2 separate regions of the Homo sapiens genome follow, and region 1 is linked to region 2. Evidence: fine-mapped expression QTL. A gene starts in region 2. The other region holds a variant in brackets. All regions are shown on one strand. Distances are from middle to middle.

The links.
Region 1: its variant is fine-mapped to the expression of ACSF2 in whole blood (INTERVAL, PIP 0.92).

What each region holds. Positions count from the first base shown.
Region 1 is chr17:50,402,001-50,411,361 of GRCh38, reverse strand. No RefSeq gene overlaps it. Among named protein-coding and RNA genes, the nearest start is that of LRRC59, 9.2 kb to the right of the region's middle. The variant C/T (reference allele first, on the strand shown) is at 5,467.
Region 2 is chr17:50,422,785-50,430,784 of GRCh38, reverse strand. It overlaps ACSF2 (acyl-CoA synthetase family member 2), which reads right to left and starts at 4,567. Exons shown (of 16, transcript NM_025149.6): 1 at 4,396-4,567. The coding sequence starts at 4,523. RefSeq lists a silencer at 4,435-4,754 and an enhancer at 4,491-5,035.

The DNA of each region.
Region 1 (9,361 bases), 20 kb after region 2:
GAATCGCATGAATCTGGGTGGTGGAGGTTGCAGTGAGCCGAGATCACACCACTGCACTCCAGCCTGGATAACAGAGCAAGACTCCGTCTGTAAAAAAATAAATAAACAAACAAAATAGTTTCTTCTATAGGTGGAGATTTATGATTGAGGAATCCAGGCTTGGAGAGATTAGGTAATGTGTCCAAAGTTGGTAGAACCAGATTTGATCTCAGTTCCATCTCAACATATGATGATTTTATTTATTCATTCATTCATTGCTTATTTATTTGTAATAAACTTTTCTATATTATAATTTATTACAAAAGTTATAAGGCTGATTTTAGCAAATTTTTAAGGTTAACTAGGTTAAAAAGTATGGATATTCATCTATACATTTTCCTAGGCTCATATATATTGAGCCTAGGAATATTATATATATTATTATATGTTATATATTAATATATCATATCTCTGTTAATATTATATATATAATTTTTATTTTCTCTTTTAAGAGAAGAAGAGTTGCTATGCTGCCCAGGCTGAACTTAAACTCCTGGACTCAAGCCATTCTCTGCCTCAGCCTCTCGAGTAGCTGGGACTACAGGCATAAGCCATTAAATCTGGCTATTATTACAAAAAAAAAATCATGCTGGACAATTAATAGAATCAGAATAAAGTCTATAGATTAGAGAGTAGTATTGATCAGTGTGAATTTGTTGATTTTTACAATTGCCCTGTGGTTATATATTTCCTTGTACTTAGAAAAAAAATTGATATATTTAGTGATAAAAGGGCATCATATCTGCAACATACTCAAACAGTTTAGAAATTGTGTGTGTGTGTGTGTATGTGTGTGTGTCTGTGTGTGTGTGTAGACAGAGAGACAGAAGGATAAAGCAACTGTAGTGAAATGGCAAATGGGAGATCTGGGTAAAGAGTACACAGGAGGGCCAGCCGCAGTGGCTCACATCTGTAATCCTGGTACCTTGGGAAGCCGAGACCGGTGGATCACCTGAGGTCGAGAGTTTGAGACCAGCCTGACCAACATGGAGAAACCTCGTCTCTACTAAAAATACAAAATTAGCCGGGCATGGAGCGCCCGCCTGTAATTCCAGCTACTCAGGAGGCTGAGGCAGGAGAATTGCTTGAACCTGGAAGGCGGAGGTTACGGTGAGCCGAGATTGCGCCATTGCACTCCAGCCTTGGCGACAGAGCAAGACACCGTCTCCAAAAAAAGAAAAAAAAAGTACACAGAAATTATTTTTATTTTATTTTATTTTTATAATAGAGATGGGGTCTTGCCATGTTGCCCAGGTTGATCTCAAACTCCTAGCCTCAAGTGATTCTCCTGCTTTGGCTTCCCAAAGTGCTGGGATTACAGGTGTAAGCTACCGCACCCAGCTCCAGGAATTCTTTCTATTCTTACAACTTTTCTGTAAATCTGAAATAATGTCAAAATGAAATTCTGTTTCTAAAAAATGAGATCAGGCCATGTACCATACTCAATGACTTGCATGTTTTTACTTGACCATATGCAATAAACATTTTTTTCCAGATCAATACATACAGTTCCTAGTCATTCTCTTTAATGGCTGCATAATTTTCCACAGTAATGTTCCATTGTATAAATACATTCTCAGTTTTTCAACCACTCATTTGTTGATGGATTTGACTTTTTTTTCTTGAGACAGAATCTTGCTCTGTCACTCAGGCTGGAGGGCAGTGGCACGATCTTGGCTCACTGCAATCTCCACCTCCTGGGTTCAAGCGATTCTCCTGCCTCACCCTCCCGAATAACTGGGACTACAGGTGGGTGCCACCACACTTGGCTATTTTTTTTTTTTTTTTTAAGTAGAGACGGGGTTTTGCCATGTTGGCCAGACTGGTCTCCAACTCCTGACCTCAGACCTCAAGTGATCCACCTACCTTAGCCTCCCAAAGTGCTGGGATTACAGGCATGAGCCACTGCGCCTGGCCTTTTTTTAATTTTTATTTTTTATTTTTATTTTGATAGGGGGAGGGTCTCATGCTGGAGTACAGTGGTGCAATCACGACTCACAGCAGCCTCACCCTCCTGGGCTCAAGTGATCCTTCTCCCTCAGCTTCCTGAGTAGCTGGGACCATAAGTGTGGGCCACTATGCCTGACAAATTTTATTATTTTTTGTAGAGACAGAGTATCCATTCCTATGTTGCCCAGTCTGGTCTTGAACTCCTGGGCTCAAGCAATCCTCCAGCCTTGGACTTCCATAGTGCTGGAATTACAGGCATGAGTCACTATGCCCAGCTTCATAGCAATTCTTGCACATTTATCTTGCTATATGAACTTGACTTTTCCCTCTATGTGCATTTTTTTTTTGTTAAAAATATTTATTTAAAAAGTACAATTGTCATATCCCTCGATATGCTTTTTTTTTTTTTTTTTTTTTTTGTGAGACAGAGTCTCTGTTGCCCAGGCTGGAGTGCAGTGGCACGATCTTGGCTCACTGCAACCTCCGCCTCACTGGCTCAAGCAATTCTCTGCCTCAGCCTCCCGAGTAGCTGGGATTACAGGTGCCTGCCACCACGCCCAGGTAATTTTTGTGTTTTTAATAGAGATGGGGTTTCACCATCTTGGCCAGGCTGGTCTTGGACTCCTGACCTGGTGCCACCCGCCTCGGACTTCCAAAGTGCTGGGATTACGGGCATGAGCCACCGCACCTGGCCCCCTCTGTATGCTTTTTTTTTTTTTTTTTTTTTGAGATGGAGTCTCACTCTGTTGCCCAGGCTGGAGTGCAGTGGCGCAATCTCGGCTCACTGCAACCTCTGCCTCCTGGGTTCAAATGATTCTCCTGCCTCAGCCTCCCGAGTAGCTGGGACTACAGGCGCGTGCCACCATGCCCAGCTAATTTTTGTATTTTTAGTAGAGACAGGGTTTCACCATGTTGGCCAGGATGATCTCCATCTCTTGATCTCGTGATCTTCCCACCTCAGCCTCCCAAAGTGCTGGGATTACAGGCATGAGCCACTGCATCCAGCCCCTCTATATGCATTTTAAGATAATATTAGGCCAGGCGCAGTGGCCTGCCTATAATCCCAGCACTTTTGCTAGGTGGTCGTGAAAGGATCTCTTGAGCCCAGGAGTTCAAGACCAGCCTGGGCAACATAGGGAGACCCCGTCTCCAAAAAAAATTAAAAAATAGCCGAGTACAGTGGTCCATGCCTGTGGTCCCAGCTACTAGGGAGGCTAAGGTGGAGAGGATCACTTGAGCACTGGGAGGTGGAGACTCCAGTGAGCTGTGATCGTACCACTGCATTCCAGCTAGGCAACAGAGCAAGACCCTGTCTCAAACAAACAAAAAAAGAGAATATTTACTTAGTTCTAAAAACAAAAATGAAACAAAAATCTTGGGATTTCTAATTGCAGTTGCCTTCAATTTGAGGGTTACCTTGGGAAAGGCTGACTTACAGGAACATGGTGACTTACATTCCACATGTATGTCTCTACATGTGGAAGTATTTAAGGCGAATTTATAGCCAAGCGTGGTGGCTTATGTCTGTAATCCCAGCACTTTGGAAGGCTGAGGTGGGCGAATCACCTGAGGCCAGGAGTTCAAGAGAAGCCTGGTCAACATGGCAAAACCCCGTATCTACTAAAAATACAAAAATTAGCTGGGCATGGTGGCGCGCACCTGTAATCCCAGCTACTTGGAGGCTGAAGCAGGAGAATCGCTTGAACCCAGGAGGTGGAGGCTGCAGTGAGCTGAGATCATGCCACTGCATTCCAGCCTGGGAGACAGAGACTCTGTCTCGAAAAAAGCAAATTTATGTAAGTAAGTAAACTATATAAATGGAGATCAATATTAAAATATACTTTGGGGGCTCACATCCTCAAGGCCTGAGACTGCTTTTTTTTTTTTTTTTAACTTGAGATGGAGTCTAGCTCTGTTGCCCAGGCTGGATGGAGTGTGGTGGTGTGATCTTGGCTCGCTGCAGCATCCACCTCCTGGGTTCAAGCAATTCTTCTGCCTCAGCCTCCCGAGTAGAGTAGCTGAGACTACAGGCACATGCCACCACACCTAGCTAATTTTTGTATTTTTTAAAGTAGAGATGGAGTTTCACCACGTTGGCCAGGCTGATCTTGAACTCCTGGCCTCAGGTGATCACTCGCCTTGTCCTCTCAAAGTGCTGGGATTACAGACACGAGCCACCATGCCTGGCCTGCCTTTTTTTTTTTTCAACCCACCTGCCAAAGGGACTCAGCTGCCCTTAAAAAGGTTGATTCCTGCTGCGTGGTGCTATTGGCTCTTTCTCTCCTGTCTCTCTGTGGATCCTTGATGTGCTACTTCATATTATTATGCTCACTTTTTCAATGTTTAAAAATTTATTTATTTAGAATAGGGGGGTGCTCTCACTATGTTGCCTAGATTGGCCTCAAACTCCTAGGCTCAGGCGATCCTCCTGCCTCCGCCTCCCAAGTAGCTGGGATTACAGGCAATGGCTGCTGCACCTGGCTATTATACCCGTTTTACAGAAGGAGGAACAGAAGCTGGGAGTGTAACAAGTTGCCAAGATTGCCCCAGAGTTAGCAGTGGCTGCACTGGCCTGACGCCCAAGGGTTTTCAGGCAGCTGATGACTCCTGTCCTAGTCTTGATCTTGGGCTTCTCAATTGCTGCTGGTACTTGTGTTCTGTTTGGCAGCTCCCCTAACAACCTCAGACATCCAAGCACAAAGTGGCATTTGGTTTTGGGGGGTTCAGCATAGGGCCAGCCTGTTGTTTCCAAGAAAAAGGCTGCCAACAGACGACAGGCTTCACTTTCTCACAAAGCTGCAGGGCTCTAGCCTAAGAGATTTAAAGAAATCTTCCCCAAAGTCAGTACCTGTGGTCAGTTCCTTGCTCTGCCTCTCTGCTTCCCTGGGCTGCATCTCTACCTGTCTGGACCTCATCCATCCTTCAAAGCCCAACCTAAATGCCACCTTCTCCATGGTGCCTTTTCTGATTTCTCTCTTCCGTACAGGCTCCTCCCCACCATGCTGGGTTTGCACCCACCTTTCTTGGAATGCATTCACTTTCCTGCTGTGATTGTCATTAAATAGTTGACCTTTTTGAACCTCAATCACTTCACCTGTAAAACTGAAATAATGTCTGCCTTATAAGTCTGTTGTGAAGGCCGAGTTAAAAGACATAATATATGTAAAGCACAGTCTGAGGCACAAATAATGTTTTTGCACCTGTCAACCTGATGTTATCACACACACACAGCACTACATATTCATGCACAGATCTCATCTCTATGTGTTCAGGCACTTATCCTTTTACCTTTTATAATAATTATTTGCATGGACTGTAGGCTCCTTCATGGTAGGAAAAATAGGGTGTAGTGAAAAGAAACAGGATTTGGAATAAAAAAGTCTGCCCCTCAACCAAAGGTGTGGCTGAGAACAAGTGACTTTTCCTCTCTGAGCTTTGGTTTCTTCCTCCTTAAGAGAGGGAGTACGATGAAATGTG[C/T]CTCACTGTCTCCTCATGTACATTATCAAAATAAGATAATGGATGCTCAAGGATTTAGAGATTGCCAAATGCTAATGTATGTATTATCCAATTGCCCTTGTCTGTTTCCCAGAAGCCCAGCACAGTGCCTTGCTGGCGACGGGTTGGGGTGTGCACAGCGGGGATTTGATAAATAAGGAGTAGGCCATTGTGAGAGAGAGGCAGGACTAGCTGGATTTCCTAGGCCGACTAAGAATCCCTAAGCCTAACTGGGAAGGTGACCGCATCCACCTTTAAACATGGGGCTTGCAACTTAGCTCACACCCAACCAATCAGGTAGTAAAGAGAGCTCAGTAAAATGCTAAGTAGGCAAAAACAGGAGGTAAAGTAATAGCCAATAATCTATCACCTGAGAGCACAGGAGGAGGGACAATGATCGGGATATAAACCCAGGCATTCAAGCTGGCAACAGTAACCCCCTTTGGGTCCCCTTCCATTTTATGGGAGCTCTGTTTTCACTCTATTAAATCTTGCAACTGCACAATGTTCTGGTCCATGTTTGTTACAGCTTGAGCTGAGCTTTCACTTGCTGTCCACCACTGCTGTTTGCCACTGTCACAGACCTGCTGCTGACTTCCACCCCTCCAGATCCGGCAGAGTGTCCGCTGTGCTCCTGATCCAGCAAGGTGCCCACTGCCGCTCCCGATTGGGCTAAAGGCTTGCTATTGTTCCTCCACGGCTAAGTGCCCAGGTTCATCCTAATCGAGCTGAAGAGAGCTATAACACTCACTGCATGGCCCAAGATTCCATTCCTTGGAATGCATGAGGCCAAGAATCCCAGGTCAGAGAACAAGAGGCTTGCCGCCATCTTGGAAGCAGCCTGCCACCATCTCGGAAGCAGCCTGCCACCATCTTGGGAGCTCTAAGAACAAGGACCCCCTGGTAAGATATTGGCAACCATGAAGGGACCTCCAAAGCAGTAATATTGGACCACTTTCACTTGCTATTCTGTCCTATCCTTCCTTAGAATTGGAGGAAAATACTGGGCATCTGTCGGCCAGTTAAAAACGATTAGCGTGGCCGCCTCACTTAAGACTCAGGTATAAGGCTGTCTTGGAAAGGGCTTTCTAACAACCCCAACCCTTCTGGGTTAGAAGTGTTGGTCTGCCTGGAACCAGCTTCCGCTTTCAATTTTCCTGGGGAAGCTGAGGGCTGACTAGAGACAGAAAGCTGTCTTCCCGAACTCCCGGGGTTAGCCAGTTGAGATCATGGTGCAGCCAGAAGTCTCTGCTCAACAGTCACCCATGCGTGCGCCCCTACCTTTCCTTCTGACCCATACCTCCTGGGTCCCGACCATGACTTTCTTGAAAGTGTAGCCCCAAAATTCTCCTTACCTCTGAATCTACTTCCTCTGATCCCTGCCTCCTAGGTCTAATGCTTCAGACTTTCACTTCCTCTCCCAAGTATTAGAGCAGGTTGTATCTCCAAAGGGATCTAAGGAAGCTCTATGCTGTGTCCTTAGGCATCTAGAATATGAACCCAGGGAGTCTTGTCCCTGATGTACCTCCCAATTTAGGCATACAGCTCTCGACATGGGCAGTTAGGTGGGACCCATTCCCCAACACCCTTGCCAGGGCCCCAAGTTTGTAAATGGCTAGGAGGATTGCTCTCCCATTGTGTAAGATGCTCTCCTCCCCCAATTTCTACCCAGCTTATCCCTCTGCAATGCAATCTCCAAGCCTTGGCTCCTTGGCCAGGGCCTTAGAACTGATGACCCAGTACGTTAACAACTGGAACTGGGTCTACGACAACATAATAGATCAGGATGAAAGCGAATTGAGTAAGTCAAGGAGAGAAGAGACAGAGAGAGACAGATAGAAAAAAGAGAGGGAGAGAGAGAAAAAGAGAGATAGATGTAGTAAAGAAAAAACAGTGTGCCCTATTCCTTTAAAAGCCAGGGTAAATTTAAAACCTATAATTGATAATTGAAGGTCTTCTCTGTGACCCTATAACACTCCAATACTGCCTTGTTGTCAGTGTAAACAAGGGCGTAGCCTGAAAGCACTGAGATCCAGGAACCAATGGATGGCCCAAATGCATTCAGTCTGTAGCAGCAACTGCTTTGCTAAGAGAAGAAAGTGAAAAGTAACTTTTTTTTTTTTTGAGACGGATTCTCACTGTCGCCCAGGCTGGAGTGCAGTGGCGTGATCTCGGCTCACTGCCAGCTCCACCTCCCGGGTTCACGCCATTCTCCTGCCTCAGCCTCCTGAGTAGCTGGGACTACAGGCGCCCGCCACCATGCCCAGCTAATTTTTTTTTTTTTTTTGTATTTTTAGTAGAGATGGGGTTTCACCGTGTTAGGCAGGATGGTCTTGATCTCCTGACCTCATGATCCACCCACCTCGGCCTTCCAAAGTGTTGAGATTACGGGCGTGAGCCACTGTGCCCAGCCTAGAAAAGTAGCCTTTTGAGGAATCCTCATTGTGAGCACACCTCACCAGTTCAGAATTATTCTAAGTCAAAAAAGCAAAAAGGTAGCTTACTAACTCAAAAATCTTAAAGTATGGGGCTATTCTGTTAGAAAAAGGTAATTTAACACTAACCACTGAAAATTCCCTTAACCCAGCAGATTTCCTAACAGGGAATTTAAATCTTAATTACCATACAAAGGTCCGACCAGACCTAGAAGGAACTCCCTTCAGAAAAGAATGATAGATGGCTCCTCCCAGGTGATTGAGGAAAAAACACAATGGGTATTCAGTAATTGATAGGGAGACTCTTGTGGAAGCAGAGTTAGAAGAATTGCCTAATAATTGGTCTGCTCAAACGTGGGAGCTGTTTGCACTCAGCCAAGCCTTAAAGTACTTACAGAATCAAAAAGACTCTATCTCAATCCTGACTCAAAAGGTTACCTACACCCTCTCTGAAGCGAATTTGCATAAGAACTGTTGTTTATGGGGATGCATCTTGATGGGGCAGCTGGGTTGTTAGGAAATACTCAAGAACTCAGCCCAGCTCTAGAACTCACCTCTGAGCATGAAGGCAATGTTGGGCACGCTGGTAAAGGACCACTAGAATCCAGCAGCTCGGACCCCTTTCTTTGTGCTCGGGAAAAGGGGTGCAGGACTGCTACATCGGTGAGCATAACTAATCCGATAAGCAGAAGTCCATGGGTGGTTATGCACCCTGGAAAGGAATAAGCATTAGGACCATAGAGCACCCTCTAGGACTAATGCTTATGGGAAAATCACTAGGGGTGCTGGCATCTCTATTTTTTTTTTCAGATGGGAAACATTCCCCCCAAGGCAAAAATGCCCCTAAGATGTATTCTGGAGAATTCGGCCCAGTCAGAGTGTATGTACCTTTTTCCCTGTCAGACTTGAAGCAAATTAAAATAGACCTAGGTAAGGCTGGGCGCGGTGGCTCACGCCTGTAATCCCAGCACTTTGGGAGGCTGAGGCAGGCAGATCACGAGGTCAGGAGACTGAGACCATCCTGGCTAACACGATGAAACCCCATCTCTACTAAAAATACAAAAAAAAAAAAAATAGCCAGGCGTGGTGGCGGGCACCTGTAGTCCCAGCTACTCGGGAGGCTGAGTCAGGAGAATGGCGTGAACCCAGGAGGCAGAGGTTGCAGTGAGCCGAGATCATGCCACTGCACTCCAGCCTGGGCAACAGAGTGCGACTCCGTCTTAAAAAAAAAAAATAGACCTAGGTAAATTCTCAGATAACCCTGATGGCTATATTGATGTTTTACAAGGGTTAAGACAATCCTTTGTTCTGACATGGAGAGATATAATGTTACCGCTAGATCGGACACTAACCACAAATGAGAGAAGTGCCGCCATAACTGCAGCCCGAGAGTTTGGCGATATCTGGTATCTCAGTCAGGTCAATGATAGGATGACAACAGA
Region 2 (8,000 bases):
TAACAAAATTTGTGATACAAAGAACAAAGTATAATGAATCAATAGCTTATATCATTTTAATGTACATTCTTGGTAAATCACTTAGGAACTGTCTCTTCTTTTCATTTATTTATTTATTTAGAGACAGAGTCTCGCTCTGTCGCCCAGGTTGGAGTGCAGTGGCACAATCTCGGCTCACTGCAACCTTCTCCTCCCGGGTTTAAGCGATTCTCCTGCCTCAGCCTCCCAAGTAGCTGAAACTACAGGCGCCCGCCACCATGCCCAGCTAATTTTGTATTTTTAGTAGAGACAGGGTTTCACCATATTGGCCAGGCTGGTCTCGAACTCCTGACCTTGTGATCTGCCTGCCTCGGCCTCCCAAAGTGCCGGGATTACAGGTGTGAGCCACTGCACCCAGCCTTCTTTTCTTTTAAAAACCCACTTGTAACTGCTGCTCATCAGATCATATAATCAGGGCAACTTGAGTCTATGCTCCCGGTTGCAGTCTGCAAACATGGCCCAAATAAATCTCTCTACTTATATTACTTTGGCCTCAGATTTTTCCCTTAGGTCCACAGTCTTATATGATCATAGCCATCCCCATGGAGGGTGGTCCACAAAGCCCCCTTACCCCTCTGTCCCCACCATCAGCACCAAGTCACTGGATCCCCAGCTCTGAGCACCACACCTAATTCTGAGAGGCTTTAGCCACTGATCTCTCTGCCTTCCCAGCTCTGAGTGTTCTCAACACCCTGGATGCAGCTGCCTCATAGGCAGCCCCAGGCCAGCTTTAGGGCAGGTCTGGGGGAAGCCTGCTCAGCCCAGGTTTCTCCTTGAATTCCTTCCTTGGAGGTTCACTGAAGCCCCAGACTAAGCCATCCACCTTCTTTGGGGAAGGAGGCACATAGATAGGGGGAAGGAGTTGGTCGTGAGGAGTTCTGGAGAGCAAAGGACAGCTTTTTCTTTCCTTCTGGGGAGAAAGACTCTGGGCCGGGCGTGGTGGCTCACGCCTGTAATCCCAGCACTTTAGGAGGCTGAGGCAGGTGGATTACTTGAGTTCAGGAGTTTGAGACTAGTCTGACCAACATGGTGAAACCCCATCTCCACTAAAAATACAAAATTAGCTGGGCGGGTGGCGCACACCGGTAATCCCAGCTACTTGGGAGGCTGAGGCAGGAGAACTGCTTGAACCCAGGAGGCGGAGGTTACAGTGACCTGAGATCATGCCATTGCACTCCAGCCTGGGGCAACAAGAGCGAAATTCCACCTCAAATAAAAAAAAAAGAAAAAGAGAAAGACTCTGAACAGCCCTGCGTCAAACGGAGAGGAGGACGTCCAGCAGACCCAAGGACTGGACATGTAGCTGGGTGGAAGTCACCATCTTGGCAATCAGCTAGGAGAAATAATTGGGTTCCAGAAAGAGGCCACCAATCAGGGGATCCTCTCCTACTTTCAAATCAGTCAGAATTCCCACCCAGACACCAGTCAAGGGTTTCCAGGGATCAGCCCTGCCTCAAAGGAAAGGCTGAGAACAAGAGCAAGCTTGTTTTATTCATCAGCCCAACAACACAGCAAGAAGGTAGTAAGTAATGAACTAACTAGCTCAGAGGTTAGATAACATGCCCGAGGTCATACAACCAACAGGGAGAGGACCCAGGGCTGTCATCCAGGATAGTCTAACTTCAAAGCCCTTGCTCTTTTCTCTCAGGCAAAACCAGGGTCTGGTAAGTAATAGGCCTGGGTGTTGGGCAACAGGAAAGCAGGCTGTGTGTGAGCAGATCGGAGAAAACAGAGGACGAAAGTCCAAGCGCATTCCTCACCATGGCACTTGCAACACCGAATAGTGCTCACCTTGATTTATTTCTCCTCCTACGAGGCTGCAAGTTCCTGGCAGGGTGAGGACTGAGTTCTGTGGCCTCTATATGCACAGCATGTGCTAGCATGACGCAGAATCTGTTCTCAGGAATGTTTGCTGATGGTTTCAGCCCTGAGGCTTCTTTTTTCATTTTTATTTTTATTTTTTTGAGATGAAGTCTTTCTCTGTCACCCAGACTGGAGTGCAGTGGTGCAATCTCAGCTCAGTGCAACCTCCGCTTCCCAGGTTCAAGTAATTCTCCTGCCTCAGCCTCCCAAGTAGCTGGGATTACAGGCATGTGCCACCACGCCAGGCTAATTTTATATTTTTAGTAGAGATGGGGTTTCTCCATGTTGGCCAGTCTGATCTAACTCCTGACCTCAAGTGATCCGCCCACCTCAGCCTCCCAAAGTGCTGGGATTACAGGCATAAGCCACCATGCTTGGCCTTTATTTTTATTTATTTATTTTTGACATGGAGTCTCCCTCTGTCACCCAGGCTGGAGTGCAGAGGTGCAGTCTTGGCTCACTACAACCACCGCCTCCCAGGTTGGAGCAATTCTCCTGCCTCAGACACCCTAGTAGCTGGTATTACAGGCACATGCCACCACGCCCGGCTGATTTTTGTATTTTTAGTAGAAACGGGGTTTCACCATGTTGGCCAAACCGGTCTCCTGACTTCAAGTGATCTGCCTGCCTGGGCTTCCCAAAGTGCTGGGATTACAGGCATGAGCCACCCACCCAGCCTTTATTTTTATTTTTTGAGTCTAGGTTTTGCTCTGCTGCTCAGGCTAGAGTGCAGTGGCATGATGACGGCTCAATGCAGCCTTGAACTCCTGGGCTCAAGTGATCCTACCACCTCTGCTTTCCAAAGTGCTGAGATTACAGGCATAAACCACCTTGCCTGGCCTGAGCCCTGAGGCTTCTGAAGGGGAAAGTAGGAGAGAAATCAGGTAAAACCATCACAGTCAGACAATAAGGGTGCAGGCACAAGGGAGTGGAAGGGGCAGAAAGAAAGTAGGCCAAACACTCAGAAAATCATCTGTCTGGATAAATGAGTCTCCTCCTGACACAGCAATAAGAATTTCTCTGAAGCTTGGTGCTCTCAGAGGTCCCAGGGCTGTAGCAGGTAAGTGACCTGTTTTGTTTATAGATAAAAAAAAGTCAAAGGTCAGAAATGTTGCCATGTGGCCTGATTTATTACTTATTTATTGGTTTGTTTGTTTGTTTTCTATTGGGCAGCCTCCTGAGCCAGAGTAGGCTGAGAGACTTCCCCTGTGGCCTGATTTAGTGTGATAAAATATGTACACTTTGGGAAGTAACTTTCCTCAGAGTCCTCCCAGCCTGAGGGGGCAGCCATGAGTCCAGAGGAGAGGCTTAAGAGACTAGGGGGTCAGGGGAGGGCCGAACTTGTCTAGGGAGACCCTGGGAAGTAGTGAGTGACTTCCCAGGGTCACTGGGAAGAGGACCCCACTGTCCTCATCTCAATCCCATCTACTGACCAGCCTTGATCCACTTAGTTTTCTCAGCAAATTAGGCAGAGTGATGTTAAGGCATTGCATGCTTTCTAGCATTCAGAAATCAGCAAGTTCAGAAAGTGTGATCTTGGAGTTCTAGCCAAAAAGGAGTCTGCATGTCCCTCCAACTCTTCCTACTTAGCCTTTTTAAAAACAAAAACAAATCTAGTTCTCTGAGACACAGCTTTGTTCTGACTTCTCCCTTTTCCATGTCCAGGCCCACACCCCATCTGATGTTGCTGAAAGTGCTGTCCTGACCATAGACTTAGTATCTGGCCGAGTTGAGTGGTAGGACAGGCTCAGTAGTGCACAGGGCTCCCCAGTGGTGCTGCTGAAGCTAACAGCCCTGATAACATGAGTGGCAGCCTGCTCTCTGTGTCTCAAGCACTTTCACATTTGCCATCTCACGGGGTCCTCCCAAGGACTGGTCACACCGGGAAGGCAGCTTTACTTACTGTGCTGCTGCAGAGGCAGTGAAGCTACTGGGAACTGAAATCCTCTGCCTGCCAGCTTCCATCCCACCCCTTGCACTGAGGACAGAAGGAAATAGGCCCAGGAGTAGGCAGCAAAGAATTAAAGCCATGTTAGTGAGCAGCTGATGAGGAGACAGGAGACTGCTAAGTTTAGTGGCCTGGGTCGGGGAGACTGGGGCTGATCCCCAAGTTTGCCCATGAAGGGGTTCCAACTCAGAGGCAGTGTCCTGGGGGTACAGCCCAGGCCTTGGCCCTTGCCCCTCCCCATCGGAATATTCTCCTTAAAGCCCACACTCCTTGCCCTCTGTGCCCATAAAGGAGAAGGAATCGAGAGTCTTGGACCAGAACTCGAAGTCACTGCAGCCACCAACCAAAGCCCCCTCCCCACCCAAGTCCACCAGGCCAAGCCAGCTTTTCCTATTGCCTAGGTGCTGGCGGGGGGCGGGGGAGGGGCGGGTACCTTCCCCCCAGTGCACTCGTCCAGAGGTGGGGCTTCCGAAGCTCGCCGGGACCTCCAAGTTCCTCTCCCGGGGAACTGCCCCGCCCCCTCTCTTCCCGCGGGGGGCCAGTACCTGAGGAAGCGGACACCCTGCAACCTGGCTTCCTGCCAACTCCGAGAGAGGGCGGCCCGGGCCCCCAGCACCCCCGAGCTCCCGGCGCACAGCCTCCCCAGGCGCAGCATCCCGACGTAGACAGCCATGGCTCGCTTTGCCCTGCGTCCCGGCCCGAGTAAACTTTTAAAGTGAGCCGGGGCGGGGCGGGCGCGCAGCGGGCGGGGAGGCGGGGAGGGTGGCCTCTGCCTATGGGGTGCGGCGGATTCGGTCTCCGCCGGCGGGGCGGGGCGGGGCGCGGCGGCGGCGACTTCGCGCGGGGCCACCTTCCCCTCCGACCCCGCGGCCCTCCCCCTCCCACCCTCGAAGAATAGCCCTGGTTTCCTCTGGATCCGAAGGCCCCAGCTGCAGTCCGAAACAGATCTTCCTCGCGACCATCCTCAGGGGCCTGGATGTTAGAAGCGCAAAAATTTGTTGATTTCCTAGAGGGAGAGCCAGCAGCACATCCGTGAGGGGCCAGATGGCAAGGTCAAGATCCATCCATCCCCTGCCCCCTCGGGTCACGTGCTGGCCCCGCTACTTGCGAGCCGGGGGCCAAAGGAGCAGGCGCGAAGCGTCCTTGAGGCATGCCAGCTGGAGCAGAGGGCCCCGCGGGGTTGGGGAGGCAGCCAGAACAAAGGGTGTCGCGGGTGAGCCCCCTGCGGGCCCGCTGGCGCCAGAGTCCCAGCTGAGGCCAGATGTCAGCTTCAGAAGGAACACCAGTTGTACCCCATCTCACAGGAGGCATCCTCCCATCCCTCCTCGGCGCCTCTGCCTTGACCTTCTGCACAGGGTTGGGGGCCGGACACGTAAGGTGGCCTCAGGGACTGGGACCTGTGTATTTCATCCTCCATCTGCCTGTCTTGGGGCCTGTGGCACAGTTCCCTGTGCTGCCCCAGGTGTGAATGGAAAGCAACCCTATGCCCCTCCTTAGGGTTCCTGAGGCCCAGGGGTGAGTGGGGTACTAAGACCTGGGCAGAGCTGCGGGACAGAGAAGGTGATAGCTCTGGTCCTGGCTAGGAAAAGTGGCACTGGGCACCAAAGAGTAGCACAGTTTATACCTGTTCCAGGTCCACACTGCCTCGGCCTAGCCATGACTCTTCCTCTAGAGAAGGAGCTGGAGAAGAATGGGGCAAAGGCCCTGGCAGTGTGACCTCCCCTCTCCTGACTGGAGGAGATGAAGTAAACCCTGCCAGGCAGAAGGGGTGGCTGAGAGTGGAGCCTGGCCTGAGGTGACCTTTGCCCTTATCTGGGAACTCTGGCTCCACTTGGGTCATGAGAAGGAGTCCATGCTGGGCCTCTTTATGATCTTGAGCGTGACCTCAAATCCTCCCTGGAACCCCGGTTCCTAGGGAGGGTCCCCACACTTCAGTTTCTGTGGGGTTGGGGCAGGAAGAGACAGAGGAACAAAGAGATCACCGGAGGCTGGGCCTGCAAGGGTGTGCTTTCCTAATTAGACTAACTGTCTTTGATAGCGGACCAGGGAATGTGGAGGGCTGGGGCATTCACAAGTCTGGGTTCCCAGCCGTGGCTGGCAGGCTTAGCCTCTAGCATGCTGGGTGACCCTGGGTAAACCACTGTCCCTCTCTTGGCCTATGAAGTGTGGGGTGGGTACTGATCTTGTAGGTCCTTCCACTCTTCTGGCTAGTTTGAGGGTCAGTCCTAGAGTGGGAGAGAAGTGAGTTCCTCCTTGAACTTTGCTCCAGCCTCGGCTTTTCAAGACACTGGGCTTTCCTGACTCTTCCTAGGTGCACAGGCCGTGGCATCATAGCCATCAGTTTCAGGGTATCTTGTACATGCCAGGCTCTTCAAGGACATTTTCTCTGACCCTCACAAACACCCTGCAAGGAACAGGCATGGCTTGGAATGTGTCTTTGTTTTTATGGATGAAGAAACTGAATCCCAAAGAGGTTCAGCTTCTTAAACATAGGCCAAAGCTCTGCCAGTAGTCTCTTTGTGGCTTTGGGCAAGTCACGGGGCCTCTCCAGCCTCGTTATCTGTCAAATGGGGATAATAATACCAACTTCACGCAGAGGGCTGGGTAAGAATTGAGTAGGTGGCACAGAACTGGTAGTCGGCCAGTTTTCAGTGATTGTTTCTTTTTCCATCCTCTCCTTCCTCTTGTGTCTTCACTCTAAGACCTTCCTCTGTGTAGGAATTGCAAACCTTTTTTAGGAGGGAGAATTGTTTTATTTGTGCAAAGCCCTGGTAGGCACTGGTTCTGTGGATGGGGAGGAGGGCTGGGAGAAAGTCAAGACGGCTGGTGGAAGTCCGTGAGTCATGGTGGGGGAATCACGTTGACCCGCATTCTTTGGCTAGTATAAGGAAGTGGGGAGCAGGGCAGTGGGCCATCCAGGCTCTCCAGCTTCCCTTCCCTTCCCTTTAACCAATTAAATTCCCCGTTGCTCCCCAAGGGGCCTTCTGCCTGAGCCATCACATCTCCTTTATGCTGCATGTGACTTGCATGATTTATGGTCCCTGTAATTTGGCTCATGCCATTGGCTACCATGAGAAAGCCCTTATTCCCGCCCCTTTGCCCATGTCTTGCTTCTGTGCTTCAAAAGCAGGCTCAAAATGTAAACACCATTTATTGATTTTTTTTCTTTCATAACATCAACCTACAGAAGACCTAGTCACAGTTACAGAATAGAATGTAAATGTAAGTATCACTAACTTTGGAAGTTACATCTGATAGTAGTTGAGAGGGAAGGGGTGGGGGAGAGTATAAAATAAAAAAAAAGGGTATGTCATTATGTACAAAAATAATAATAAAACTATAGTACCAGCACTTAGGGAGGAGAGATGGGGTGCAAGTACCCATTTATCAAACAGAAAATCTAAAACTGGCAAAATAAGTATGTCATTTAGAGGCAAGTAGCAGAAGAAGATAAATCAGAAATCGTTACAATAGTTCAAATGATTCTCTTTGGACTTAAATAGATATTTCACCAAATAAATATATATATGTATGTATGTATGTATATATTGACCCCAAGAGTTTGAGGCTGCGGTGAGCTGAGATCACACCACTGCACTCCTGCCTGGGTGACAGAGCAAGACCCTGTCTCAAAAAAAAAAAAAGAACACCCGCAAAAAAACAGAAAATAACAAGTATTGGTGGGGTTGTGGAGAGACTGGACACGTGTGCATTGGGTGGTGGGAATGTAAAATGGGGCCACCACAGTGGATGGTATGGTGCTTCCTCAAAAAATTAAAAATGAGTTATATGATCCAGCAATTCTACTTCTGGGTATATACCCAAAATAATTGAAAGTCGGGACTCCAACAAACATTTGTGTACCAATGTTCACAACAGAATTGTTCCCAATAGCCAAAAGACAGACACAACCCAAATATTCATCAATGATTGAATGGATAAACAAATGCAGTAGATCCATACAATGGAATACTATTCAGCTTTCAAAAAAGGAAGGAAATTCCCACACATGCTACAGTCCACATGAACTTTGAACACATTGTGCTAAGTGAAATAAGCCAAACACAAAAGAATAAATACTGTATGATTCCATTCATATGCGACACCTAGAGTAGTCAAATTCTTAGAGACAAAGTGGAATGGTGGTTGC